Linked DNA regions of Homo sapiens: all the other regions are linked to region 3. The links come from fine-mapping of genetic effects on gene expression. A gene starts in region 3. Each other region holds a variant in brackets. All regions are shown on one strand. Distances are from middle to middle. Region 1 overlaps ZHX3 (zinc fingers and homeoboxes 3). Region 2 overlaps ZHX3 (zinc fingers and homeoboxes 3). Region 3 holds the start of PLCG1 (phospholipase C gamma 1). Region 4 overlaps TOP1 (DNA topoisomerase I). Region 5 holds the start of MIR6871 (microRNA 6871).

The links. PIP is the estimated chance that this variant, and not a neighbour inherited with it, causes the effect.
Region 1: its variant is the best candidate, but not a certain one, in a credible set for the expression of PLCG1 in whole blood (INTERVAL, PIP 0.61).
Region 2: its variant is the best candidate, but not a certain one, in a credible set for the expression of PLCG1 in whole blood (INTERVAL, PIP 0.88).
Region 4: its variant is the best candidate, but not a certain one, in a credible set for the expression of PLCG1 in whole blood (TOPMed, PIP 0.66).
Region 5: its variant is the best candidate, but not a certain one, in a credible set for the expression of PLCG1 in whole blood (TOPMed, PIP 0.90).

What each region holds. Positions count from the first base shown.
Region 1 is chr20:41,266,847-41,271,948 of GRCh38, reverse strand. It overlaps ZHX3 (zinc fingers and homeoboxes 3), which reads left to right. Exons shown (of 4, transcript NM_001384317.1): 2 at 2,866-2,959. Among named protein-coding and RNA genes, the nearest start is that of ZHX3, 48 kb to the left of the region's middle. The variant C/T (reference allele first, on the strand shown) is at 2,362.
Region 2 is chr20:41,180,717-41,185,800 of GRCh38, reverse strand. It overlaps ZHX3 (zinc fingers and homeoboxes 3), which reads left to right. Exons shown (of 4, transcript NM_001384317.1): 4 at 600-5,084. The coding sequence ends at 610. Among named protein-coding and RNA genes, the nearest start is that of MIR6871, 14 kb to the right of the region's middle. The variant C/TAC (reference allele first, on the strand shown) is at 2,618.
Region 3 is chr20:41,134,650-41,139,751 of GRCh38, reverse strand. PLCG1 (phospholipase C gamma 1) reads right to left here and starts at 2,209. Exons shown (of 32, transcript NM_002660.3): 1 at 1,894-2,209. The coding sequence starts at 2,110. LOC124904903 (translation initiation factor IF-2-like) reads left to right here and starts at 2,239. Exons shown (of 2, transcript XM_047440629.1): 1 at 2,239-4,050; 2 at 4,460-5,102. The coding sequence starts at 2,413. The coding sequence ends at 2,994. It overlaps PLCG1-AS1 (PLCG1 antisense RNA 1), which reads left to right and starts at 1,752. Exons shown (of 7, transcript NR_109889.1): 1 at 1,752-2,038; 2 at 3,941-4,050; 3 at 4,460-4,613. RefSeq lists enhancers at 1,092-1,171, 1,320-1,419, 1,341-2,125, 2,910-3,694 and silencers at 1,570-1,829, 1,950-2,939.
Region 4 is chr20:41,102,995-41,108,096 of GRCh38, reverse strand. All of the region lies in intron 13 of TOP1 (DNA topoisomerase I), which reads right to left. All of the region lies in intron 4 of PLCG1-AS1 (PLCG1 antisense RNA 1), which reads left to right. Among named protein-coding and RNA genes, the nearest start is that of PLCG1, 32 kb to the left of the region's middle. The variant G/A (reference allele first, on the strand shown) is at 3,090.
Region 5 is chr20:41,165,429-41,170,530 of GRCh38, reverse strand. PLCG1 (phospholipase C gamma 1) reads right to left here. Exons shown (of 32, transcript NM_002660.3): 15 at 4,980-5,081; 16 at 4,705-4,892; 17 at 4,137-4,337; 18 at 3,936-4,055; 19 at 3,672-3,852; 20 at 2,602-2,679; 21 at 1,661-1,764; 22 at 1,356-1,452; 23 at 1,005-1,074; 24 at 262-419. It overlaps MIR6871 (microRNA 6871), which reads right to left and starts at 1,508; the gene lies at 1,453-1,508. The variant A/G (reference allele first, on the strand shown) is at 2,458.

The DNA of each region.
Region 1 (5,102 bases), 130 kb before region 3:
GTCAAGTTTTTCTGGTGATTTTGTAAGCTACACTCCTAGAGATTTTTGTAATACTTTCTAAAATCATTTCAATTTTTTTTTTATTGTCAGTGACCTTGGTGTCAGGAATAAGAAAATTGTATTCAGATCAGTCAAGCAGAGCCTGTGCAAAAACGAAAAACATTAATTTTTTATTTGTATCTCATCTGTTTTGTTTTTCGAAGGAGGAGCTTGAGGCTATATTCTGGCAAATGATCTGAGAAGAGCGTCTTACTCAGAAAGCTAGAAGTGTTTTGCCAATTATTATGAAGCTTTTTTTTTATGAATGAGGCTGTTGCTTCTGGCCCACAGTCAGTGCTGTTTTTGGAGACTTTTTTCTCCAGCAAATGTTGTCTTCCACACTCCTACCTGCTTCCTCTTATGATCCAAAATATGCCATCCAGACTAAAAATCTGTAGATGTGAAGCAAACAAAGCTAACTGGTTTATAGTGGATTGAACCCATAGCTTTTGGCATCATCTGAATCAACCAATCAACTGAACTCTAATGCCTTGGTTGAGTAAGGGTGTTGCAATTTTAAAGTTAGAAGGGATCTGGCAAGCATAGGAAAATATCTATCATGCTGGCTATTTTTCTAAAAAAAACTTTTGTAGGCTGGGCATGGTGGCTCACGCCTGTAATCCCAGCACTTTGGGAGGCTGAGGTGGGTGGATCACGAGGTCAAGAGATCGAGACCATCTGGCCAACATGGTGAAACCCCGTCTCTACTAAAAATACAAAAATTAGCTGGGTGTGGTGGCGCGTGCCTGTAGTCCCAGCTACTCAGGAGGCTGAGGCAGGAGAAATGCTTGGACTTGGGAGGCGGAGGTTGCAGTGAGCCGAGATAGTGCCGCTGCACTCCAGCCTGGGGACAGAGTGAGACTCTCTCTCAAAAACAAAAAACAAAAATACTTTTGTAGAGACTGTGGTCTCACCCTGGTGCCCAGGTTGGTCTTGAACTCCTGGCCTCAAGCAATCCTTTTTCTCAGCCTCCCAAAGGATAATTTTCAAAAAATAAGCAAAGATGAGGTTTAAGGTAGGGAGAATTAGAAGTTGTTTCTCAGTAAATTATTAATAAGGAGAAATTTTCAAGAGCTAATTCAGTAGACATTGAGCTACTTTAGGCATACCAGGACAGAAGCAGAAAAAGTGAAATAGATGGATGAGACTGTAGCTTACTGCACAGTTATATTTGCCCAGGTACCCCTGACTATGAACAGCAGCATAGTGCATAATACTTTTTTTTTTTTTTTCTGAGACGGAGTCTCACTCTGTCAACCAGGCTGGAGTACAGTGGTGTGATCTTGGCTCACTGTAAGCTCCACCTCCCGGGTTCACGCTATTCTCCTGCCTCAGCCTCCCGAGTAGCTGGGACTACAGGTGCCTGCCACCACACACAGCTAATTTTTTTGTATTTTTAGTAGAGACAGGGTTTCACCGTGTTAGCCAGGATGGTCTCGCTCTCCTGACCTCGTGATTTGCCCACCTCGGCCTCCCAAAGTGCTGGGATTACAGGTGTGAGCCACCGTGCCCGGCCTTTTTTTTTTTTTTTTTTTGGACGGAGTTTCGCTCTGTTGCCCAGGCTGGAGTGCAGTGGTGCGATCTCGGCTCACTGCAACTGCTGCTTCCTGGGTTCAAGTCTTCTGCCTCAGCCCCCTGAGTAGCTGGGATTACAGGCGCACACCACCATGCCCGGCCATTTTTAGTAGAGACGGGGTTTCACCATGTTGGTCAGGCTGTATCAAACTCTTGACTTCGTGATCCGCCCGTCTCGGCCTCCCAAAGTGCTGGGATTACAGGCGTGAGCCACCGTACCCGGCCTTAACATAATGCTTTTCTTTAGGTAATTTACCTAACAAGTTTCCTTATCTGGGTGATTAGAATATAGAATCAACCTCATAGCATCATTGTAAGGATTGGATTAATGTATTTAAAGATCTTAGAACAATCCCTGATGCAGTGTAAAGCTAGATATGTGTATGTTAAAGACATAAGATGCTGGTGTTAAGAAGTTAAGCCACTTGGGTGAGGGATTTTTTTTTTTTTGAGGGGCAAAAAAAATGTGTACATTCATGGATGCTCGTAGTCATGATGCTCTAGTCATGATACACTAGAGTCTAGTGTACAATGCCTACACGTCTGTTGGAAGTTCTGAGACCTTCTGGTATACTCGCTTTGGGACCATTTTACTGCTAATGGGCATCTCAATCAAAGATAATTCTTCAAGAAAGAAATAAGAACTCAAAAGTAGTGGTTTTACAGCTGTTTCCCAAGTAATTTTAAGATCCCATGAAGCATCTCTGGTTGTCTGTTGAAAACATAGTTACTGTCTCATTCATTTAC[C/T]GAAAGTGCCATGATGAAATAGGGGTAATAATGGTCAGAGACAGAGATGAAAACAGTTCCTTGGCCTGGAACTCACAGTCTGAGCCATTTTTGTGCCTCTAGAATCCACACCAGGAAAACCCGAATGGAAGAACATCAGAAAATAGCACATCCTTGAAGTTACAAAGCAACACATCTGTTAGTATTATTTCTGCCAAGCTGTCTCAAACTTAGCTGGGAGAGAGACATGGAAACTCATTGGTGGAAAGAGCGTTAAAATTACAGATTTTGTTCTGATCTGTTATCAGAGACCATTGAGTTTGCTTTATTTCTACTAGGAATTTTAATAGTTTCAAATTGCTAGTTTGTATTTTGATAACCTCTTTTTCACCTTTGTCTCACTGGTTTTTCTGTTTATGTATAGTTCTAGTGCGAATGAATTAGGAAGGGAGACTGATGAGATTGGATAACTCAGCCTCCTAAAATGTTTTCTCATAAAGTGATGATGTGCTGCTTCTTTTATAGGACTGAAATGCAACTGCAGAAGCAACATGTGACCTTTTAGAGATGCTTGTGGGACTGCATAAAGTGAAGAGGGAAACTGGAAAAAAACAATGAAGTAAGGAAAAAGTATGTTTCTTGGGTAAATAGCATGCTTCTGAGTTTTCACAAGTTTCTTGCTACATTAATTACCACAACTTTGTAATGCAGAAGTCTTTATATTTAGTCTTCGCATTGCTATTAAACATTATTTTCTCCTCCCTTGTTTTTTATTGCTGAAGTCTTTGATCAAATGATTCTTTTTTGGATTAATCTAAAAATCTGCATTGAATCTACAACTTCGATGATTTCTTTGATCATCTGATAGGAATCTGTTATAGGTTGACCATTGAGATCATAAGAGTATCCTGTGTTGTGTCTCTCTATGATGTGCAGGGTGAGTCAAAGTGTCAGCTTTTAGTTTGAGTGCAGAACATACACTTGATTGACTTGAAAAACTAGAAAACTAATTTGAATACCAATTATTCAAGCCATATTCTCAGGTTACAATATATGTGACACTACACTTATCTCTGGGATCTGTGGAATAGGAAACCTTTTAAAAAATGATCTAGTGTATTTAATGATGGACATATATTCACAGTAGACTATTAAAAAGCAGTTACAAAACATATTAAAATTTAAATTGGGAAAACTTTTTTTAATGCTAAACTTAATACGGAAAGCAAAGCACACTAGCAAACAATCATTGTAAATAGAGCCTTCATTTGATGAAATAGATATGCCTTAGTAAGCTGTTTAAATAAAGCATGTCTTTTACATTATTTTCCATTATTAAGAAACTTTGTCCAGTAAGCTGAATAGAAATTTTTAGAAGGAGAGAAAGAAATGGAGGCAGAGTCATTGATGATGTGTGATGCTGGAAGTTCTGTACAACTTCTTTAGGCAACTCCATGGCAACATCTCTCTCTCCTCCTTCACAAGCCTGGGGACCACCAGCCCGTGGGAATTTTCCCACAAATGTAACTTCTGGAACTTTCTGTCTTGTGGTGGGCACCTTCCCTATGCTTCAGTAATGGATTGCTGCAGGCGTAATCTTGGGTAGTCTACCTTGATCATTATTTAACTTTGAGTCTTAAAATTGAGTAAAACTGTTTAGTGGCTTTATATATCAATCCTCTAAACCAAAAATGTCATAAGACAAGTTTCTTACGTACACATCTCCTAGTGCTCACTCTCATACTGACTGCTTCATCACACTGGTCTGCTGGCCATGCTTCAGTCTGCCCAGAAATATTCCTGCTTTGGAGCCATTGTTCTTGTTCCCTCTGCCTGGAATCATCTTCTCCCAGATAGCCAAATGGCTACTGCCCTCCTTCTTCAGGTTTCTGCTCCAAAGTTAAACTTTCAAAGATGCCTTGTATGGTACCCTCAATTGAAAATGATACCTTACCATACCCTGGAATCACTCTATCCTTCTCTATTTTTTCTATAGCATTTATCACCATCCAGCCACTGTAGATAAATTTGATTGGCTGTCTCCCTGCCTTCCCTTCACACCCAGTACCTTCCCTGCCTGAAATCCTCATTGAGGGCAAGAACTTTATCCCCAGGATCTAAACCAGTGCTGGACAATAGATGCTCAGTAAGTATTTGTTGGGTGAATGAATGAAGAATGCTTACGTTAGGAGGATTAAGTAGATTTGGAGATCATGTGATTGGATTGAAAATGATTAACAGGGAAAATGTTGTGGAGGAAGTATCTTAAACTGTATGTTAAAAGCCTGCTAAACAGCGGGGCTTAAAAATCATTGTCAAACATAGCTCTTTGATCTAGAAGGTAATTTATAGCCACTTTAGGAATATAAATGGCAGATTAGATATTTACACTAAAAAAAAGACATAAAATATTAAACTAATGTCTAGGAAAGCTTTGGATGGTAATAAATTGGGAGGGTTAGGCCAGGTGCCGGTGGCTCACGCCTGTAATCCCAGCACTCTGGGAGGCCAAGGCAGGTGGATCTCTTGAGGTCAGGAGTTCAAGACCAGCCTGGCCAATATGGTGAAACCCCATCTGTACTAAAAATCCAAAAAAAATTATCAGGCATGGTGGCAGGCGCCTGTAATCCCAGCTACTTGGGAGGCTGAGGTGCGAGAATTACTTGAACCCGGGAGGCGGAGGTTGCAGTGAGCCGAGACGGCACTCCAGTCTGGACAACAGAGTGAGATTCCATCTTAAAAAAAAAAAAAAAAAAAAAAAA
Region 2 (5,084 bases), 46 kb before region 3:
GAAGGGCCAATCTGTTTATCTGTACCTGGTTTCTCATGGCTTTCTCAGCCAGCTGCAATTAAGGACCATTTCTTTATGAATCACAGATGATGAACCTCTCTGATATCAGCCTTACTTTGACTTTGATGTTAGGGTTGCAAGTTACAAATGAAGTGAAGACATCAGTAGAATACATATCAGAACTAGACCCAGCTGCTATTATATTGGAACAGTATGTTCTGGAGAGCCTGGAAGGAGAGGGCAGGATGAAGCATTTTAGGACAGGACTCCAGAGACGGTGGTGGCGGAAGCCTGGGGAGCTAGGGGGATTTAGTGGGCCTGGAGAGGCCAAACCACTGCTCCTGCTGCTAGGCCTAGGGTTTAGCAGGGTCTCTCAGAGAGTCTGATGGCCTTACAAGGTTGAGCCAGCATCCTGTCCTTAACCCACATTCCCTCAGGCTGGAGGGTGGGGGAGTGGGTGGCAGAAGGCCATTCATTGCTCATGGAATTAAGAGGTCCTCAAAGCCAGTGATGCCACCCTGGTATAGCAAGGACCAGGCTGCCTGGGGGGCAGGTGGTGGCAGCTGCCGTAGAGTGACAGGCATGTGTTTTCTTCTCAGAAACAGACTGAATTTGATCTGATTAATGTGAAGGACTGGCCAGTCTGGGAAACCGCCTGCCACGTGGAAGAGCCAAACCCGACTCTCTGCTGCCACATGCCGTTCCCATGCCCGGCTGCTGGGCACCTGGGAGAGCTTCCAGAATCCTCGCAGACAGCCCAGAGCCTGCCGCTACCCTCGGCCTGCCCACCACCAAGCAAGCAGCAAGCAAGATGGGGTTCTCATCAGTTCTTCCTCCCACAATGTAGGACCTTTCCTTTACCTTCCAATGGATAAAATAGTTCAGAGTTCATAGTCATATTCATAGACACAGAATCAAGCTTTTAACATATACATCCACCTCTATATGTTAAATAAAACATCAGATTATCAACACTGTCATTACGTAGAAACTTTGGTTAGCCAAGCAGTGCATTGTCAGTTACGTCATCTCTAAAAATGACCTGTGTCTGTTCTCTGGGGATTGCTGGGTCACAGGTGCCCCTCACCTTCCACAGTCAGGCAGGGAAGTTATAGGCACAAAGCTACGTCTGGAACCCCTTTGTGCCCCCTTTGTGTTCCTCAAGGAAGCAGTACCTTTGAAGAGATCTCTGCTGCATTAAGTGATGACCGGCTACGTTTCATGTCAGGCTTGCTTTGCCTTGTGGGCTACTCAGTGCAGAACCTGCTGTAACCCTCAGTTCAAAAAATGGACTGGCAATGTGATTAGCGTTGGATGCTTTACCATTCTCTTTAGTTGTTACCGTAATTCTGCTTTTTCATGGGAGTTTGAATCATGGACCATAACTTTTCAGTTATCAGATCAACTAAAGAAACATTTGTTGTTAAGCCTAATGTGCTGACCTATGTGCCTGCATTTTTTTTTTAATCTAGACATGTTTGGAGTGAGAGAAAGATGGAAAAAAGACATGGGGTAGGGACGTAAGTGGAAATCTATAGCCACAGCCTGAAGCTTTGACCACTGCGGTTTTCAGAGCCCTTTCTCCACACTCATTTCAGAGCCTCCTATGGTTTGGGAAGGAATAACACACTGGCCCATTAGTAAGGGTGAAGGCTGGAGGGATTTGTTGACTTCTTGGAATTATCAGAGGTAGGGTGGTCTTTAGCACAAAGACTTGCATGCAGAGATCCCTGGCAGAACACCCAGAGTGCCCGTGGCTCCCACCCCAGGGTCTGGCCGGTGTGCTGGATGCATGCCCAAGGGTGCTGGGCATCACTGGTCCTTGTGAGGATGCTTTTAAAGTTTTATATTTATGTCCCCAAACTTGGAAACAAGAACTCTACTTTAGCCTAACCCTCATGTCCTTTTTTGAATTGAGAAAATTACAGGAAATGGTGCCTTTGAAAATTAGAAAACTTGCTTACAGAGCTGTTCTAAATGGTAAATCCTCAATTTCCCCAAGACCGGTTGCTCTGAGAGTAGCTGGTAAAGAGGGGCGAACTAAAGACCTGTCCACCTGTAGCTCCGCTCATTTCTTAGAAACCACCTGCTTCCCAGAGTGCCAAGCCACAAGTACCAGGCTTCGTGGGCACAGACACCTCCTGGGCTGGGCAGAGTGACAGTGCTAGAAGACCCCAGAGAGAGGGCAAGGGCTTTGGGCAAGAAGCACTGGTGGTGTTTTAGGGACCGTCCTTCTCCCCTACCCAGGGAACTGGACCTGGCAGGGCACCGTGCTCATGTGGCTCCAAGGACAAGCATGGCGGTGGCCCCTTCTGCCTTCCAGGAGAGGTCTTGCTTTTGAAACCAAAATCATGTTCTTCTAAAGTGTCATCTTCTGCCCTCCCTGTCCCAATAGGGACCACATCTTATTTGTCTCAAACAGGGACTTGTGAGTACTTGGCAAGTTTTGCAGCCTATTTTTGTATTCTTAATTTGGGGAGTAAAGATGTTTGGTCTCAAAAACCTTTGAGGAATTGCCAAGAATGGCGAGTGATTGCTTTCCTTCAGAGAACAGACACTTGGAATTTCTCCTTTTAGTGTTTATATACGTGCAGATTAATTTATATATATATATATA[C/TAC]ACACACACATATACAGTATAAATACTCATTTGATTCTCGTAAAACGCGCATCTGGCGTGTGCAGTTGAGAAACTTGGTGGCACATGGGTGTTGGGGGAGTAGCCTGTGTTGGAGGGACACCAGTGCACTAGGCAGCTGGGGCGGCCCAGGCTGAAGCCATCTCCGGGTGTCTGAGAAACCACCCAGTGCCTCACCTCCAGATCCTGCTGGCATCACCTCCAGAGCCCTGCATGCACTGGCTGAAGAGTTGGTCTGTGGAGAGGATTTTCTTGGTTACTTGTATTCACGGTTAATTTACAACCCAAACAGCAAAACACAGTTGGTGGACAAGTTCATGCAGGACCTACAGTGACCCAGCCATGGGCACTAGCTCATCTTTCAGGTGGAAAAGTACAGTGCTGCCTGCCCTGGTATGTTTTTCTTATAGATGTTAGCCCTGCCCAACAGCCAGGGCTACACTACAAAAGGCAAGAATGCCCATGTAAGGAGCCCAGCAGTCTGGACAGATCCTTCTTCCTCTGCTGTTGGATGAGAGTGAGTGAGTATGCTCTGGACCTTATCCTTGAAAGATGATCAAAAGCGATGATGAGGGAGGCAGTCATCACGCAGGTGCTTAAAGGGACATTGTAGGAGGTACTCAAGGGTTTGGGGGCAAAACCCTGAATCCAGCCAGTCGTGCACAGAGACACACCCACACTAGCCCAGTGGCAGTGGGGGATGTGGGATGGCAGCAGCCAGGTATGTAGCCCTGTCACAGGACAGCTCACTGTGGTTTTGCACACTGCCTAAGGGTTAAATTGTGTTGTTGCCTTCAGTAGAAGGCATTTGTGGGCTGCAGAGTTGAGAGTTGGGTGAGGTTAGTCTCTCCTGAAGAAAAAGCCTATAAAAAGTGGCTAATCTTATCCCTTTTCTCTGTATGCAGTTGGACTCGTCAGAGATAGTAAAATCATCTTTTAGTGTTTTTTTGTTGCTGATGTCTTGTACCCATTTGTTTTTTACATGGGGTTGTAGATCGAGTTCTCAAAGGTGAAACCAGATGATCATTCTGATAAAGGAAATTTAAATTTGATACATATGCTTTGTATATTTTGATTACTTGTTTTCGTTTTTGACTATAAAGGAGCTTTTTTATTTTGGGAGGGGAGGAGTGTCATTTTTGAGAATCTTGGGTTCCTGAAAAAGAACGCCCTAGTTGGATGGCTTGCCAGGGCCTTGGGGTTTGGTAGTGATTGTACAACTTAAAGCTCCTTTCTCTTGGCTGAGTGACAGGTGGCTGTTCAGGTGGACCAAAGCACCTTGACACAAGGACTCCACACTGTGCTCTCTAGTAGCACAAGGAGGAAGTTGGACAGAACATTGGGTAGTGCCTTGCGGGCTCACACATGTACTAGTGGTCTCATCTCCAGCTAGCCTTGGGAGGCCGTCCCACCAGGAAATCTCTCTATTCCGTAGCCTGAGATGTGCCCTTGTGGGTTTTATCCTGCTCAGTCAGTGGCCTAGGGGCAGGTCCTGTGTTCTCTCCCTCTCTCTCCTGGCTCTGGGACATCTGTCCCTGGCTGCCTTTCATGGAGGAAGGACACTGGCCTTTCTGGTTGGATGCTGTGTGGATGCTCTCTGCTTGAGCCTCGTGGTCTCTTGTCTCTTTTTGGACCAATATCCTCAGATTGGTGCAGCTTTTTCAGTTCAGATATCACACCCCAAGTGGATAAAGGCAACTTGCAGGAGAGGAGAGCCAGCCAAGAAGAAAATTTTAAAACCAAACCTCGTTTAGGATTTTCCTAAAGTCATCTTCTCTTTTTTCTTGCTCAGAGTTTACCTGGGAGATTTCACCAGTTTGACTCACCATTTGCAGATGTGCTTTTGTATTAAATTTAAATTTTCACATATCACATCCATTCTCAAGGTAGTTATATGCTGGAGAAGAAAAATCCTCTAGACACATGAAGGCCCACATAGTCAAGTCTTCCAGGGCAAAGCCAGCAGCCCACCCAGGTCAGGTAGCCAGCAGGGCTCAGTTCCCCTCACTCCAGACACGGACCCTCCTCTTCAGGGTCTCTTGACCCAGCTTCCTTCTCTCCTTTTACCTGAGAGCACAGACCTCTCTCAGCCAGCCTGCCCAGACCACGGGGGGCTACTCCCATGTAGTTTGGGGAGCACTTGATCTCAGAAAAGCTCCATTGTCTGAGCAAATGGGCAGTTGTGGAGCTCAAGCCTTTCTCCTGTGCTCAAGTCCCTTCCCCAAGCAAGGCTTCAACCTCATCTACCCACCATGTAGTTTTCTCTGGCCATTTAAGTGGGGCGGCAGGGACATGGTTGGGCCATGCCACACCAGGGCTGGTGAGGCAACCAGTTTTGATTTTGACAGAGTGGCTGGAGGAAAAGTGGCAATCAAGGTGCTGCTTGGTTTGCTCTGAGTGCAAATGGAACCAACAGGTTTCTGCTGCAATCTGTGTGTTCCCAGTGCCA
Region 3 (5,102 bases):
CCCAGTTCAGGGTCTTGAAGGGCAGCCACGGTCTATTGTTAATGTTATTGCTAATAACAGCTCATATTTATTAAACATTTATGTGTCAGACAATGCTAGATGTTTTATATGAATTGTCTCATTTGATCCTGGAGCAACCATATATACTGGATATATTATTACCCCCATTTTACACATGAGGAAATCAAGGCTCAGAGAAGGTAAGTAACTGGCCGGGAAACACACAATGAATATATGGGCTTCAAATCCAGACTTGCCATCAACCACTGTGCTACATTTATTGCCTGCTAATATGCGTGGTTTAAAATGCAGTCTGTTACCCAGGAGATCTCTGAGAACTTCCAGCCAGTGCCACCAACTCAACACAGCATAGGGAGTAAGGAAGGGGACCATGCCTGGAGCCTGATGCCTGAGTGATGTTCCCAGGGTTATCTCAGCTCTTTGCAGTGTCGATTCTTCCTTTACTTTGGAATCCACAGGCTCTCAAGTCACTAAAATGTTCTCCCAATGGCTGACAGGGTCAGTGGGGGCACTGAGGAAGGGGGCTGCCATTTCTAAGTTGAGCAGCTGCATTAGATCTGTGTCAGATCTGGAGTTTGTAGCTGAGGATGGTTGGCTGCCTCACCACAAGACCTTCCTTCCTCCCAATCTCCTCAACTATCTACACACATGCACACCATACCCAAGAAGGTTTGTGGGACCCCCCCTTGGGGTGTCACTTCCTGATCTCCCTCCTTCACACAGACCTGGTTCTGAGCCTGGGTCTCTCTAACCCTAGTCTCCGGGGGTCCCTGCAAGAAGCAACCCAGTCTAGAGTTGCAGACACACCATCTCTTCACACTGAGAGGCGGGGGAATGGAGGGCAGAGCAGAGTGCCCATCCGACCACAGCACAGGCACGCGCTAAGTGGAACAACTCTCAAAGATCTGGGGTTTTTCAAAATCCCCCAACTCCCTCCTCCCACTAGAGACCAGCGCAAAAGCAGCCAAGCTCAGGCCTGGGAAGGCGAAAAGGCAGGAAACTAAGAGAAGCCGCTCCCGCTCCCTGAAGCCACCGGACAGAGGACAAAGGGCTAGACTCACAAACTAGCTGCACTCCTGAGAAGAATACCTGACTCCAAGGCGCTGGGGCAGGCCTTTATGGGGCCCATCTCCTGGGAACGTGCTTCCCAGGGCAAGGGGAGTCCCTGCCCTGGCATTGAGTGTCTGCCCACCCACATAGGCCTCCAAAACCCAGCTTTGGGACAAAAGTAGCAGAAAAAAAAAAAAAAAAATTCCAGCCACTGGCTTCTCTCAGGCTTCTCCAAACCAAACAAGACCACCTTCCTCCCTCTCCCCCAGAGGGAGATGAGTAGGCCCAGCTCTGCTCCAAGACCAGCCCTACCCAACATCTGCCTAAGTTCTACTTAGGGAACCCAAAGATTCCTTTGCAAATAAGAGCCCAGCCTGGGGGCCCGGAGAGTTTCACAGACTGCTCTTTCTGGATAAAGAGTGGGCGGGGACCGTCTGGTCAGGCCCCAGGTTCCCGTGCAGGGTGGGGGCCACTGCCTTAGCTCCCCTCGCCGACGCCGCCACCACTCCCAGGGTCTGGGGGGCCCGATGCCTGCACCGCAGGTCTCCAGCCCGCGAGGATTTTTAGGCCTCAGGGCAAAGCGCCTGGAACACTCCCCCCAGCTGGGGGAGGGGGGGTGTCCTGTCAGGTGACCGAGGACCCGGATGCCCCCCGCCCCCAGTGACCACCCGAGACGAAGCGGGGGCGGGGCCCGGAGGGAGTCTGGGAGGGCCCGAAAGTTTGCCCAAGTCGCTGGGGCGGCCGGCCGGGGTGCAAGCAGTCGGGCCGGGCTCCCACGACCCCCGCGCGGGGCGGGCCCAGGCAGGAAGTGGGCGCACTTACTGGCCCCCTCGATCTTGTCGGCGCCCCGGCTCCACGTGATCTGGCGCGTCTCCAGCTTGACCTGGAAGGTCTTCCGCTCGGGTCGCTGCGACTTCTTGGAGTAGAACAAAGTCATGACGGTGCCCACCTCGAGGCTGCGGCAGAGGTGCAGCACCTCGGCGTCCGAGGGCGCGCCGGGCCCGCAGCCGTTGGCGCAAGGGGACGCGGCGCCCGCCATGGCTCCGACGCTGGGGGCGGCGGCGGCACAGGCCAGGACCGCCCGGGAGCAAGCGCAACGGCGGCGGCTGAGGTTGGGGCTGAGGCTGAGGCGGCAGACGAGCGGGACCCGGCGGCGGCTCCTGCAGGCGGACACGGGGCGGGGCCTCAGCGCGGCGGGGCGGGGCTGCCCTGAGGCCCCACCCCGCTTCGGCGCCGGGAACAAAGGCGCCCGCGCACCCGTGGGGAGGACCCCCGCCCGTCGGCCCGCCGCGCCTGCGCCCCGCGACCCCCAGACAGGCCGCAGGCGGGGACGGAGGCGCGATGGCGGCGGGAGCGCGCGCCGTTCCCGGTCGACCCACCCAGCCCTCAGTCCCGCAGAGCTTTCTCACGCGGCCCCGGACACAGCCCGGCGGCCACGAGCGGCCCTGTCACGCACGGCAGCCCCGCCCACAGGCCGCAGGCCCGGCGGCCGGCGCGTCAGTCAGGCGTACTCGCACGGGCGGCCGCTACCCCGCGGTCCCGCACAGACGCAGCCCCCGCGTCCCGAACACCGCCCATGCAGCGACCGGGACGGGACGTGAGGGGATGGCGCGTCCTCCGGGAATGCCCGGCCAAACTCAGTTACCTGGGCGGGCTTCCCGGACAAGGGAGCCAGGACGGGCCGCCTCACACCGGCGGCGGCGGGTCCTCCGCGCGCCCTCTCCCGGGAGGGGCGGGGGCGGGGCTGCCTGCGGATTGGTCGCGGGCACTGATGGACAGCCGACATGTCCCGCCCCCCCGGCAGCGCGGGGCTGGTCCGCAGGCAGTTCTGGCGACGGCCAGACCCACGTCTGTCTGTTCCGCCCCTGCTGCCAGGGTGGCTTTCAGTGGTCCTCTCTTTCGGAGAGTTCCCCCCAAGCGTGAGCACCCCTTACAGGGGCGTTAGGTCCGCGGCCGCGCTGTCCAGTGGTCTGACCTGCAGCTCCCAGGGCCTTTGTGTCTGTCCCTCGCATGGGCCTCTGCACGCTCCGTCCCCACGCGACAGGACTCGAGTCCGATTCGGGGCTCCGACTCAGACCCTACCCCGCAGCGCCCTCCTGCAAATGCTCTCCTGAACTTTGGTTTTCCCCGCCTTGCTTTCTTCCTCCTCCTGTAGCCGCTGCCTCTCGATCTCAGAAGCTTCTCTTCCTCTGCACTCAGTGCTAGGCCAGATCCCAAGGCGACCTGACCTTTCCCCTGGCTTTGCCCAACAACACAGGCACCGGTGACTCCAAACCTGCATCTCCCCTACGTTCCAGGCCCCAGCATCCCACTGCATGTTCCACATCCCCCCCCCTTAGACAGCTCGCCTTCCCTCCCCAAACGATTCCTTCCACAGTCTTCACTTTCTCAGAACGCGGCGCTAAACTTCTCTAAGTTGGAAGGTCAAAAACCTTGCAGCTAACTTTGATTCCTCCCTTTGCCTCACCTCCAATCCATCAAGACCTTGTCACTCAGCCCACAAGCTGAAGGCCCCATCTCCTGTCACCCAGACTACTCACCTTGTTTGGTTTTGCCTGGATCTATCAGTTTGGTTTTGCCTGGATTTATCATGCTTTAAATCTTTAAAATGAAATTAAATCATGATCCCCTACATCCAGGCTAAAACCCTCCGTGAATTCCCATTGCACCTAAAATCCACACTCCCTGCTTGGCCTAGCAGGTTCTATATGACCTGCCCATCTCACCAGTTTCATCTCTCACAAGTGATCCTTCACTCTCCATTCTCCAGCCACAAGGCCTTTTTCTGGTTATGGAATATAATTCATACTCTTTGTCTTTCTGAAGCCATTCTTGAAACTCACCCCTGCAATCTATCTACCCTTGTCAGCACCGCCAAAATTGAGGACACCCACGGTCGCGGTGGAGCCTGTCTGACATGTTGAGCCAGGCAGTGGGTCGGCTGCCAGGCACAGCAGGACAACTTACTGCATTTCAGAGGTGAGAAGCCCAACAGAGCTTCCAGCTGATGCCAGAGAAAGAGCCAGGCTTCCTGGGAATTGTGAGATAGTAGGACTAGACTAGAGTTTGTAAGAGCGTGTGCTCAGGCAACCCACTCAGCTGGATAGTGACCTGGGGCTGCTGCTTCTGACTTTGTCTTGCTGTAGTGGAAACTTGTGTGTTAACGTTGATTTCCTCAAGTGCGTCCCCTAAGAAGCTCAGAATTCAGCATGACATTGAGACCCTTTGTCCTAGCCAGCCTCTGTGGAGTAAGGAGCGGTGGGGTAGCTGAGATGGACTGCCACCTAGTGGCAGGTCTTTACGTGGGCGGGACGGAGCTAGCGTAGACCCTGTGCTGAAGGTGTGCACCTGTGGTCACACCTGATCCTCATAATTATCTTCTAATCAGGAATGATGGTCCACAATTTACTGATGAGGAAACAGAGATTCAGAGAAGTTCTACAATTTGCCCCAAAGCCACATAACATGACTAGGTGGGAACTAGAACCCAAGTCGGCCTGACTCCATGAGTTTTCTGCCTCACAGGAGATCCACTGGCTTAGGTAAGTCCTGGTGGTCAGTAGTCAGTGGGCATGGAGGCTATCTGGTTAATCAGCATGGGTGAGGGGAGGCATGCTCACCGCTGGCCTTGGGCACAGGGAATCCAGCAGAACGTGAGTGCTCACAGAGTGTGGCTTGAACTGGCTTAGGCTTGAAGTTCTGTGGACCCTGCTCTTCTCTGTGTTGGGCATTGACAACATGAGGAGCACAAGAGAGACACAGCGCCAGCTCTCTGGGAGTTCAGACATTAAATAAACACTCTGTTACATAAAGACAATTATGATGAGGGCTAGAAGGAAAAACATTGGGTCGAGATCTCTTCAGACCTCAGCAGAGGTCTAAAGGAAGTGAGTCGATGGCGAGGTGAATTATTAAAGGTGGGTTGGAGAAAAGTACATTCCAAGTAGAGGTAACAGCATGTACAAAGGCCCTGAGGCCAGGAAGAGGTTGTTGAATTTAGGGTTACAAAGCTAGAGTTTCCTGACTGAGGA
Region 4 (5,102 bases), 32 kb after region 3:
CCCTTCAACATTCTATTACAAAAACATATCTGTTATTGACTGCTGGGTCACAGTAAGTCATACTTTAATTATGTTTGCTCCAAATATGTAGCAATGTAAGTGCTCTAGGCTGGATGTGGTGGCTCACGCCTACCCAGCACTTTGGGAGGCTGAGACAGGAGGATCACTTCTTGCTCCATGCAAGAAGGGGGGACTTGAAGTCAGGGGCCTTATTAGCTTGGGCTGAGCTGGGCTAAGAGACTCCCTCCAAGACAAAAAGTAATGAACAGAGAAGGAGAAGAAGGGAAAGAAAAGAGAACAGTACATAAGCAAAAAACACCTCCCAGTTAAAAGGGCTTACAAACAGAAATTTCAAAAGACACAAGGAAAATGGCTCAGAAAAACTGCCAACAGTAATTAGCACATGAATTCACTTCAGGTAACATTTTATAGAACAATCTTACAAAGACTTTCAAGTGAGTATGTTTAGTATGCATAAAAAGATGTAAAATCTAGAAAGAACATGAAATTATAAAACAAAAATGAAACAAAATCAGATATAAAATTAGAAATTTTGAAAACAAAAAGTGGTAATTGAAATAAATTATAGATGGAATAACTTGTAGATTAAATATAATTAGAATTAGTGAATTGGAAGTGAGTGCTACAACTCACCCAAAATGAAATATTCCCCTGAACTTAAAAAATCAGACCTAAAGAGACAAAGAGTATGAAAATATAGTTTAAAAAAGATGTCTAGATTGAAAAGTGTCAACACTCATCTAATAGGACTCTAAAAAAGAAGTACAAAAGGAATGGTCTAGAAGTTATGGAAGAAATAATGATTGGTAATACTGTAGGATAAAATACATTAGTCCTCAGATTAAAAGTCTATCTATAAATACATATATATCCCTGGATACAGCATAGTGAAACCAGAATCTTCCCTATAAGACACTTCCTTGACTGGAGAAAAGACAGACTATGAATTAAGATGAAAATAAAGAAATTTTCAGGTAAACAAAGGTGAGTGAGTGCCACTGTTGGGTCTTCACTAAAGAAACATTAAAGGGTGTATTTCAACAAGACAAGAAACCCCAGAAGGTATGAGATACAAGAAACACTGAGTATAGCAATTAATAAAACATTTGGCTGTGACTGCTGTTGACTAGGGAAAGGGTTAGGGTTTTATGGATAATTGTGTTTAAAAATAAAAATTAAAACTTAAAGAAATATGAAATATATGAACTGAAAATGAAGAACTGTTTTTATAGATAATTAAATTATCTACATAGAAACCCCAAATGACAGACACTTTTAGAACTAAGAGTTCAGCAACCCTGAACAACTCTGAGCACCTCTTGTATCTGCTGCCAGATACAAGACCAACACCCCAAAATTATAAGCATTACCACTTCAGGAATAACCAACAGAAACATAATGGAAAAAAATCTCATTCACATTAGCAATAAAAACTATAAGATCACTTAAAAATAAGAATTTTTTAAATGTAAAACCTTTATGAAGAAAATTACAAAACCATATTGGTGGATACATTCAAAAGACATGAATTAATGGAGAGGTATAACATGTTCGTGAATTGGAAACTCAATTGTATTGTCAATATCTTTCTCCGTTAATCTATAAATGTATTGCAATTCCAATAAAAATCTCAACAGTTTTTATTAGAATTTGTTAATCAACAAGTTTATCAACAGTTTTCATTAGAATTTGACAAGTTTATCTGAAAGTTAATATGAAACAGCAGAGGGCCAAGAATAGCCAAAGCAATTTTGAAGAATGAAACAAACTTGTCCTACTCAATAGACTTTATAAAGCTACAGTAGTTAAGACAGTATGCTACTGATGCAGAAACAGATACACGAACTAATTAAAGAGGACAGACAGCCCAGAAACAGTCTGACATATATGTAGATATATCTGATATACAAGAGAGGAGGTAATACAACTAAATAGTTCTGTGACAACAGTTTACTCATTTGGAAAATATATTAGGTTTCAACTTCATCCCAATGCAAAAATACATTCTAGTGGATCTAAGACCCAAATGTAAAAAGCAAAACTTTAGAAACATTAGCAAGGATATGGAAAAAGAGGAATACTGTTGTGGGTGGGGGTGGGAGGGGAGGGAGGAGGAGAGTAATGATGTAAACTGAAGTACTTAAGAGAACAATTTGGAAATATCTAATGTATAAAACAAATTTTCATTCATATACACAAGAAACATGTGTTTCTTCCAGCACTGTTTATGAGGGCAAGAGACTGTATAACCATGCTAAATGCCTCTTAACAAGAGAATAGAGGCAGGGTATGGTGGCTAACACCTGTAATCCCAGCACTTTGTGCAGCTGAGGTGAGCAGATCACTTGAGGTCAGTTCAAGACCAGCCTGGCCAACATGGTGAAATCCCGTCTCTATTAAAAATACAAAAATTAGCTGGGCATGGTGGCACACGCCTATAATCCCAGCTACTCAGGAGGCTGAGGCACCAAAACCACTTGAATCCGGGAGGCAGAGGTCACAGTGAGCCAAGATCACGCCACTGTACTCCAGCCTGGGTGACAGAGCGAAGACATGGTCTCAAATGACCAACAACAAAAACCAACAGAATAGATAAGTTTTTATGATATAATAGAATACCATGTAACAAATAAAATGGATTAATTAAAAGTGTAGGTTAAGATAATAAAACCACAAAATCAAAGCTGGAGAGGAATAAACAAGTTGCAGAATGATCCCAGTAACATACCTAATTTAAAACTAAAACCTGTTTTTATTTTACAATAGGTTGTACAATATGTCTTTAGCTTACAATAGTTTACAACATATTGTAAACTAAAAACAAGTTTTAAATTAGTATGTTACTAGTGTGTTACATATTGTAAAATTACATATTGTTTATGAACACATAAATATACTGCAAAAATACAAAAAATATGTATGAGAATAAAAAGACCGAGTTCATAGTAATCTACAGGGAAGAAGGTGAATGGTATACAAGTGACTTCAGCTATGTTTATCAGTATCTTTTATGAAATAAAACAATTGAGCACATAAGACATAATTTTAAGATTTTACAAAGCCAGATG[G/A]TGGACATACGAGTGTTCATTACATAATTATCTATTCCTGTATGTTTGAAATGTTTCACTAAAAATAAAACCCCTAATATTTGTATCTACATTTTTTAAATCTAAAAAGAGAATGCTTCTTCCGCTGGCAATATAAAGTTAAAAATTATTCAAGGCACTATCAAACCCCAACCTTTGAAGATCTCACTATTCTGCTGAGTACAAGACAGCCTAAAAGAGAACTGAGAGCAAGCTCAAGAAATCATTTCTTTTTCTCCTAATGGCACCACTTTTCCAGGCCTTTAATGACTCCTATTGGGATCCCATTGCAGTTCAAGTCAGGCACTTTCTCCTGAGCATAAGGTTCAGAGTCTAACTCTGGGTGACTTTTAGGTTCACTACCATGATCATCATCCAGAAACTTGCACAAATGTCTATTGTGTATAGCAGTTAGCTGGATATTGTCTGGAATAAAATTGACTGGCTCTCTGCTCTTGAGGCATTTCACCTGGTCTATCTAACAAGGATCTCAGCCCTCAGAGAGGCTCCAACAATTAATTAACTCTAATCCTTACCTGTACAAGTACTCAGCATACATTATGTATCTGTCACCTCTCTCCATCCCCATTGCCATCATTTGTCTTAAGTCATCGCTGTTTCTTGCCTGGAGTATGCAACAGCTTCCCATTGATCTCTCTACTTCTTGTTTGTGTCCAATCCAGTCTCCGCAGAGCAGCAGTCAGAATGATCAATTATGTAACGAGTTTCCAAAATACAAATCTGGTGTCATTTCCCTCTTTAAATCCCAGGTTGGTGGCTTCCTTTTAAACTTAAAGGCCCTAAAACTTGCCCAAGATCCAACAGCTAGTAACTCTTCAATCTTCTTAGAGCGTATGCTCCTCATGCTCTCCTGTGACATCCACTGCTAAATGTGGCCAGCTTTAAATGCCATGTTAAAGAGACTGAGCCCTTAAAGGACTTTGAACAGTGGAGTTGTCTTGAACATAGCTTCATTTCAGCAAGATTTACAGGCATTATATGTAAATCACACCAGTAGATTTACACTGCTGTAAATGCTGCAAAGGAAAAGTACAGGGTGCCATCTGAGAGTATACCGGGGTACCTGATCCAGCCTCTAGGATTCAGGGATGGCCTTTCTGAAGAGTTAACATTTAAGATGAGATTTACAGGATGAATAGGATTGTATCCCTGGAAAGAATAGGAGAATGGGTGTTTCTAATAGAGAAAATAAAGTAGCCTTTTGAAATCCCAGAGGTGAGCAAGAGCTTGGTCGTTCTGAGGGAAGAAAGAGGCAGGAGAGGAAGCTATATAGTGAGGCCAGCCAGATCTTCAGGTACTAATTTAAAAAAATTTTTTCTTTACATTATCCTTTAAATGTTACCTCTTCAGAAAGGCCATCCCTGAACCCCAGAGGCTGGATCAGGTACCCTGGTATACTCTCAGATGGCACCCTGTACTTTTTCCTTTGCAGCATTTATAACAGTTCATATTTACTGATGTGATTTACATATAATGCCTGTAAATCTTGCTGAAGTGAAGCTGTGTTCAAGACACTCCACTGTTCAAAGTCCTTTAAGGGCTCAGTCTCTTTAACATGGCATTTAAAGCTGGCCACATTTAGCAGTGGATGTCACAGGAAAGCATGCAGAGACTGAAGATCTAAGTTACATTCTAAGAAGATCTAAGTTAGAGTTACTAGCCACTGAATCTTGGGCAAATTTTTGGGCCTCCCAGAGACTAAATTTACTCATCTATAAATGGTGGCATTAGTATATGTATGTGCGGTATGCTTAGAAGATCCAAATGTTAACTTATGTGCAAATGTTTTTAATAGTAACTCTGTTATTTTGATCATTTTTAAGTTGTGGTAAAATATGCATTGATACCATTTACCACTAGTGACATTTAGTAGTATATCCACAATGTTGTGCAACTGTCACCACTTGATAATTCTTTTTATCACACCTTTTCTCAACCCCTATCCTCAACATACTCTGCTTACCACCCTCCCCT
Region 5 (5,102 bases), 31 kb before region 3:
TCTTGTGTATCCAATTGCCCACTAAGCAGACCCACTTCAACGACCCATCAGTATCTCAAACTCAACACAACCTAAACACACCACATTGCATCTTATGTGTCTGTTTCTTCTCAATCCCTAGCTAAGGCAGGGGCTGTGGCCTATCTAGCATAGGCCATCGGCTGCCCCACTGCTCTGAGGGGGCCTGTGCTGGGAGCTGGAGGCCTCAGCTGCCTGACGGGCCCACACACTGCCCCCCAGAAGGTTCCAGCAGAATCTCACCCTGGCGTCTGCTGTCTGGGCCACTTCACGGATCTTTTTCACCCAGTCCTGCAGCTCCTCCTGTGAGTCGGCAGCAACATCCAGGGACCAGTGGGCCACCGACGCCATGCTGATGGAGAAGACGAAGAGCCGGTTGTTCTTGCCCTCAGGACGGATGGCTGGGAGGGCGAGAGCAGATAACAGCTGGGAATAGACATCTCACCCCCTCCACCCCACTCCACACCGCAGGCACTGGCTCAAATGAGTTCTATCTCATCCCATTTCCTCCTTCCCACACCCCATGAGGGGAAGGACTACTCTGCTGGCCCATTTGACAGATGACGACGCTACAACTCAAACAAGTCACTGCTGGTTGTGGTGGAGCCAGTGTTCCAACTCAGCTCTGACTCATGCTTCTTCCTCAGGCCGTGTCTCCCTCTCCACCCCATCTCCAAGCCTCTGTCACATCCCTGTGGTACAACCCATTAGGCCTGGGGATGTCAGCCAACCAGCAGCATCAACTTTGTTCTGCTGATTCTGACGGGTTCCCCAGTGCCTGGCATAGGTAAACATGCAGGGGTCAAAGCTGACAGTGACAAAGGGAGCCCAGGGTGTCAAGGGGATGTCCAGAGCATGGGGAGAGCTTGGAGTGAGGGCAGACTTTGGGGTTCAGCCATCAGCTTCCTCCCTAGGAGCAGGAAAGAGATACAAAGAAGAATCTCACCCTAGGGAACAGTGGGCAAGAGAAACAGATGGGAGCTCACCAATCTGACAAGCCGGCACATCCAAGACCCCCCGCAGCAAGTCCCCTAGGGGGCTGTTCTCGTCCAAGTGCTGTGGGAAGCAAAGCCCACCAATGGTCAGCATGGCTACTGCATATGTGTGTGAGGGGATATCCGTGTGCATGGGACAAATACATCTTGTGGGTGTACCTGTGACTGCCAAATGTAGCACAGGTATATGGGAGACTACGTGCATGGCCACATGGGCTGTGCGACCAGCCCATGTGACAGGTGTCTGTGCATGCACGTGCGTGCTTGGGACTGTGTGATGGGGGCATGCCAAGGAGAATCTGGGAATAGGGAATGCTGTTACTCAGGTGGTTCTGGTCTTACCTCCCTCTCCGGCTCCAGGGCCACGGGGTTGACCATCTCTTCCACGTAGTTTGATGGGAACCACAGCTGCTTCTTCCCTCCGTAGTCCCCTCGCCACCTGTGGGAGCCACAGGGTGCTGACCTCCAGCAACCACCCCGAACTCCCATGAGGAGGGTATCCTTTGGTAGGGGTTCCCATGCCTAAGCCAGGGTGAGGCAGGCACTGCTGGTGCACACAGGAGACAAGCACATCACAAATGCATGTCTTTGGGGCCCCAGCTCCACTGGGGCCCTTGGACTCTGGGCCTACCACACCACTGGCTTACCAGCCTCCCTCTTGCTTCTCCACATTCTGGATGATGGCGCTCTTGATGAAGGTCAGCTCGTCCTCCCTCTGGGCCTTGTAGTCAAAGAGGGCTTTGACTGCACACTGCAGAGGTGAGAAGCACCAGTCAGAGCAGAAAGGCTCTCCCTGCCACTGCCAACCTGGGGCTTCATGTGCACACACACATGTGCTTGGGCTTCCCTGCCTGGGGTCAGGCCAGTGGGAGATGACACTGCCATCAACAGGCCCTAGTTATAGTTCTTGTTACTGCCCTGCAGGGAAGCTCCAGGACAGATATGATCAGAGAGGCAGGGCCTCTGCCAGTGAAATACCTCGGGACCCAGGTGGAACCTTAAGCCCCACCCTGGGCCACAGGGAGAACCTTGAATCCGCTCCCAGGAGTCAGGGCTGGCAGGCCAAGAAGGCAGGGTCTGCAGTGGCCCTGAGTGCCTCCCCGGGACCTGGAAGCATATGGGGCCTGGATGGGACCCTACCACTCATCTGTGAAGTGGAAAGAAAAACTTCCTTCCAGGTCCCCTGGCTGTGGAGGGGAGGGGGTGAGAAATAGGGCCCAGGCCTTTTTAGAGAAAAAGGCAAAACAAAAAAGAACCTGTGTAACAGGGCTCCATGAGGCCGGGGAATGAGTGGCCAGTGTGCCTCCCAGCTCCTACCCCGCTGCTGCCCAGGAAGGAAACAGGGGTCACCCACAGGAGCAGTTTAAAGGGTCACTGCTGACTTAAGGGGTAGGGGCTAGGGAGTGGGTCGGCCCTGGGAGACCTGCGGTCGCTCACCAACCAC[A/G]CATCTCTCACAACCTCTTGGGCCTCGGAAAACCACAACCACCACTTCTCCACAAAGACCACAGATGGCCCAGAACACAGAAATGAAGCCCCAAGCAGCTGGGGACCCTCCCCAGCTTCCTATGCCCAGAGGCCTGAGCTGTACCTTGAAAGTTGGCATAGGGTTTGCCTCTACATAGAAGCCAGGGTTGCGTCCCTCATACAGGGCCCCGTAGTCAGGCTCCTGGAAACAGGACACAATGGGATATGTTAATGCCCCAGAGCCCAGAGGTAGAAAGCAGCTACTGGTTTCTGGAGCAGCTTCCCTTTCCCCCAGTGCAGCAAACTTGCACCTGATCCACAGGGATCCTTCGACCTCAGTAGAGACGGCTTCAGAGGCCTCAGGCCCGGCCTCACTGTTCCCTTTCCTTTCTTCACATTCTTACATGTAAGGCCCAGCCCAGGATTCTAAAATCTCTCAGGTCCTAAATGCCCAAACTCCCAAGTATTTCTGAGCTATGTGCAGGTGGGCCCTTCACAGACTACCCATATTCAGTGCTTTAGTTCAGTGGCTTGTTGGTTCACTGCTGAGCCCAAAGTCAGGAAAAGCCTTCCCACTCCCCACATTCCTCCTGCCGCTCCTCTCCATCACTTGAGTCCCAGGTGCCAGTGGACAACAGGCCTCTCTCTCCCCAGCCAGCCCTGTCTACTGACGACAGCAGTCTCTCAACTGATCTTCTGGTCCTAGACCCCTTCCTTCTGTCCAGGGCCCTTATCACCAGCTGTGCTGCCATGGGTCCTGACTTTTTCCCTCACTGGTCTCACCTCCTGTGGCTCTGCCCTCCATACCATCCACCAGGCGGAGGCTCCACAACCACTCTTGGGTAGCCTCATCTCATCTGCCCTAGGACAGAGTCCAGGCCAAGCCCAGGTGGATGAGTTTCCACTGTGTGCACCTCTCCCAGTGTGAGCCCCAGAACCTCCTCACTCCACATCTTGACTCATGAGGAACCCTCTGCTTATGTGCCTGTCCCCATCCTTAAAGATGCTGCTCAGATGTCCCCTCCTGCAGACACCCTCCTGGTACCCACACTGTGGCTCCCAGCTGGAGTCAGGGGCCCTCCCACGAACTTCTACAACACACCAGGTCTTGCTGTTACACACATCCAGAGACTGGTAAGATTCTGGGTCTCTCCTGCCTCCCCTGCCATGCCCCGTCTACCACAGCCCCCTCACAGCTGTGCCAATCTTCTCCAGTGCCTCCTCGTTGATGGGATAGCGCAGCTTCATCTTGCGGTATAGCGGGTGTTTCTCATAGTAGCTGATGAGGTCAACAAGGCTGTCGAACTCCGAGTTCCCTAGCATCACTGTCTGGCCCTCTTGCTGGACACGGCAATGCTTGATCTTGCCCTCAGCCCTTCACAAGGACAAAACAGTCACACAGGGTCAGGGCAGCTCAGACCCAAGCAAGGCCCCACAACCCAGTGCCACACCCCTCACCGGAAAGAGATGGCATATGAGTTGGGTTCATTCCGCTTCCGCACCAGGAAGGCCCCATCACGAGGGACGCGCATTAGCATGTGCTCAGCCTGTGCTCTGGTCAGGCTCGCGTGGTACCACCTGAGAACAGGCAGAGTCAGGCCCGGCCAGCACCACCCATGGCCCTGCCCTGCCTTGTCCGCCCCCAGGCCCTTCCCTCACTCTTTGCTCTCGTGGGCGTTGGTCTGTGGGACAGGCTCTGAAAGTCGCATCTCAAACTCATTACAGCGCAGGGGCACCTGCTGGTAGTGCGTGATGAGGTCATAGAGGGAGTCAAAGACGAGGTTGTCTGTCAAGAAGAACTTGGGGGTCCCAGCATCTTGCCGGGAGTGGATACGGCAGTGCTGGACTTTCCCGTTCCGCCTGTGGAAGACACAGAGTGAGGGAGGCTGGGGAAAACAGGCCAGGGCCCCAAAGACCAAGTTCCACCCCAAATGAGGGTGGAACTCAAGGAGGGAGCCTCAAGGAGGGAGGCCAATCTCCTGAGGAGCTCAGGTGTGGGCAGTCACATGAACCAAAGGTGTGGGCTTCAAATGAACCGAAAAGGGAGGGGTATGGGGGGGGGGTGAGACAGAGAGTGTGTGTGTGTATGTAGGTGAAATTATGTTCCATGTAAAGCCTAATTATTGTCCTGGATCAAAGGCTCAAATGTTAACTGATTATCTCTGGGTGATGTGATGTCTGTGTACACACGCTGACTGAACATACGCATCTGCATGGGAAGTGTTACCAGAAAGAGAGCGTGTAGTCGCCCACGAAGGTCTCACTCTCTCGCACGAGGAAGGAGCCGTCAGGGGCTCCGGTCTCGATGCAGTACTCAGTAAGCAGGCGCTCAGCGATGTGACGCCCGTCACGCCCTGCCCCTAGCTTCCCATGGAACCACTTCTCATTGGAGTGCAGCTCTGTGCTGCTGCTGACCTGTCAGGGGAAGGCAACAGCAAAGATACTGTGACCCTGGCCCAGGCCTGACCTGGCCCAGCCCCCAGACCTGAGCTGGTTCCTCACCTCCTTGGGCTCCTCCTCATCCTCGTTGCCCTGGTCACTGCTGGTCTCCTCAGAGTAGTAGATCTTGCTGCTGGTCAGAACAAAGTAGTGGGGATACCATTCCTGGAACAGACCAAAGAGGGA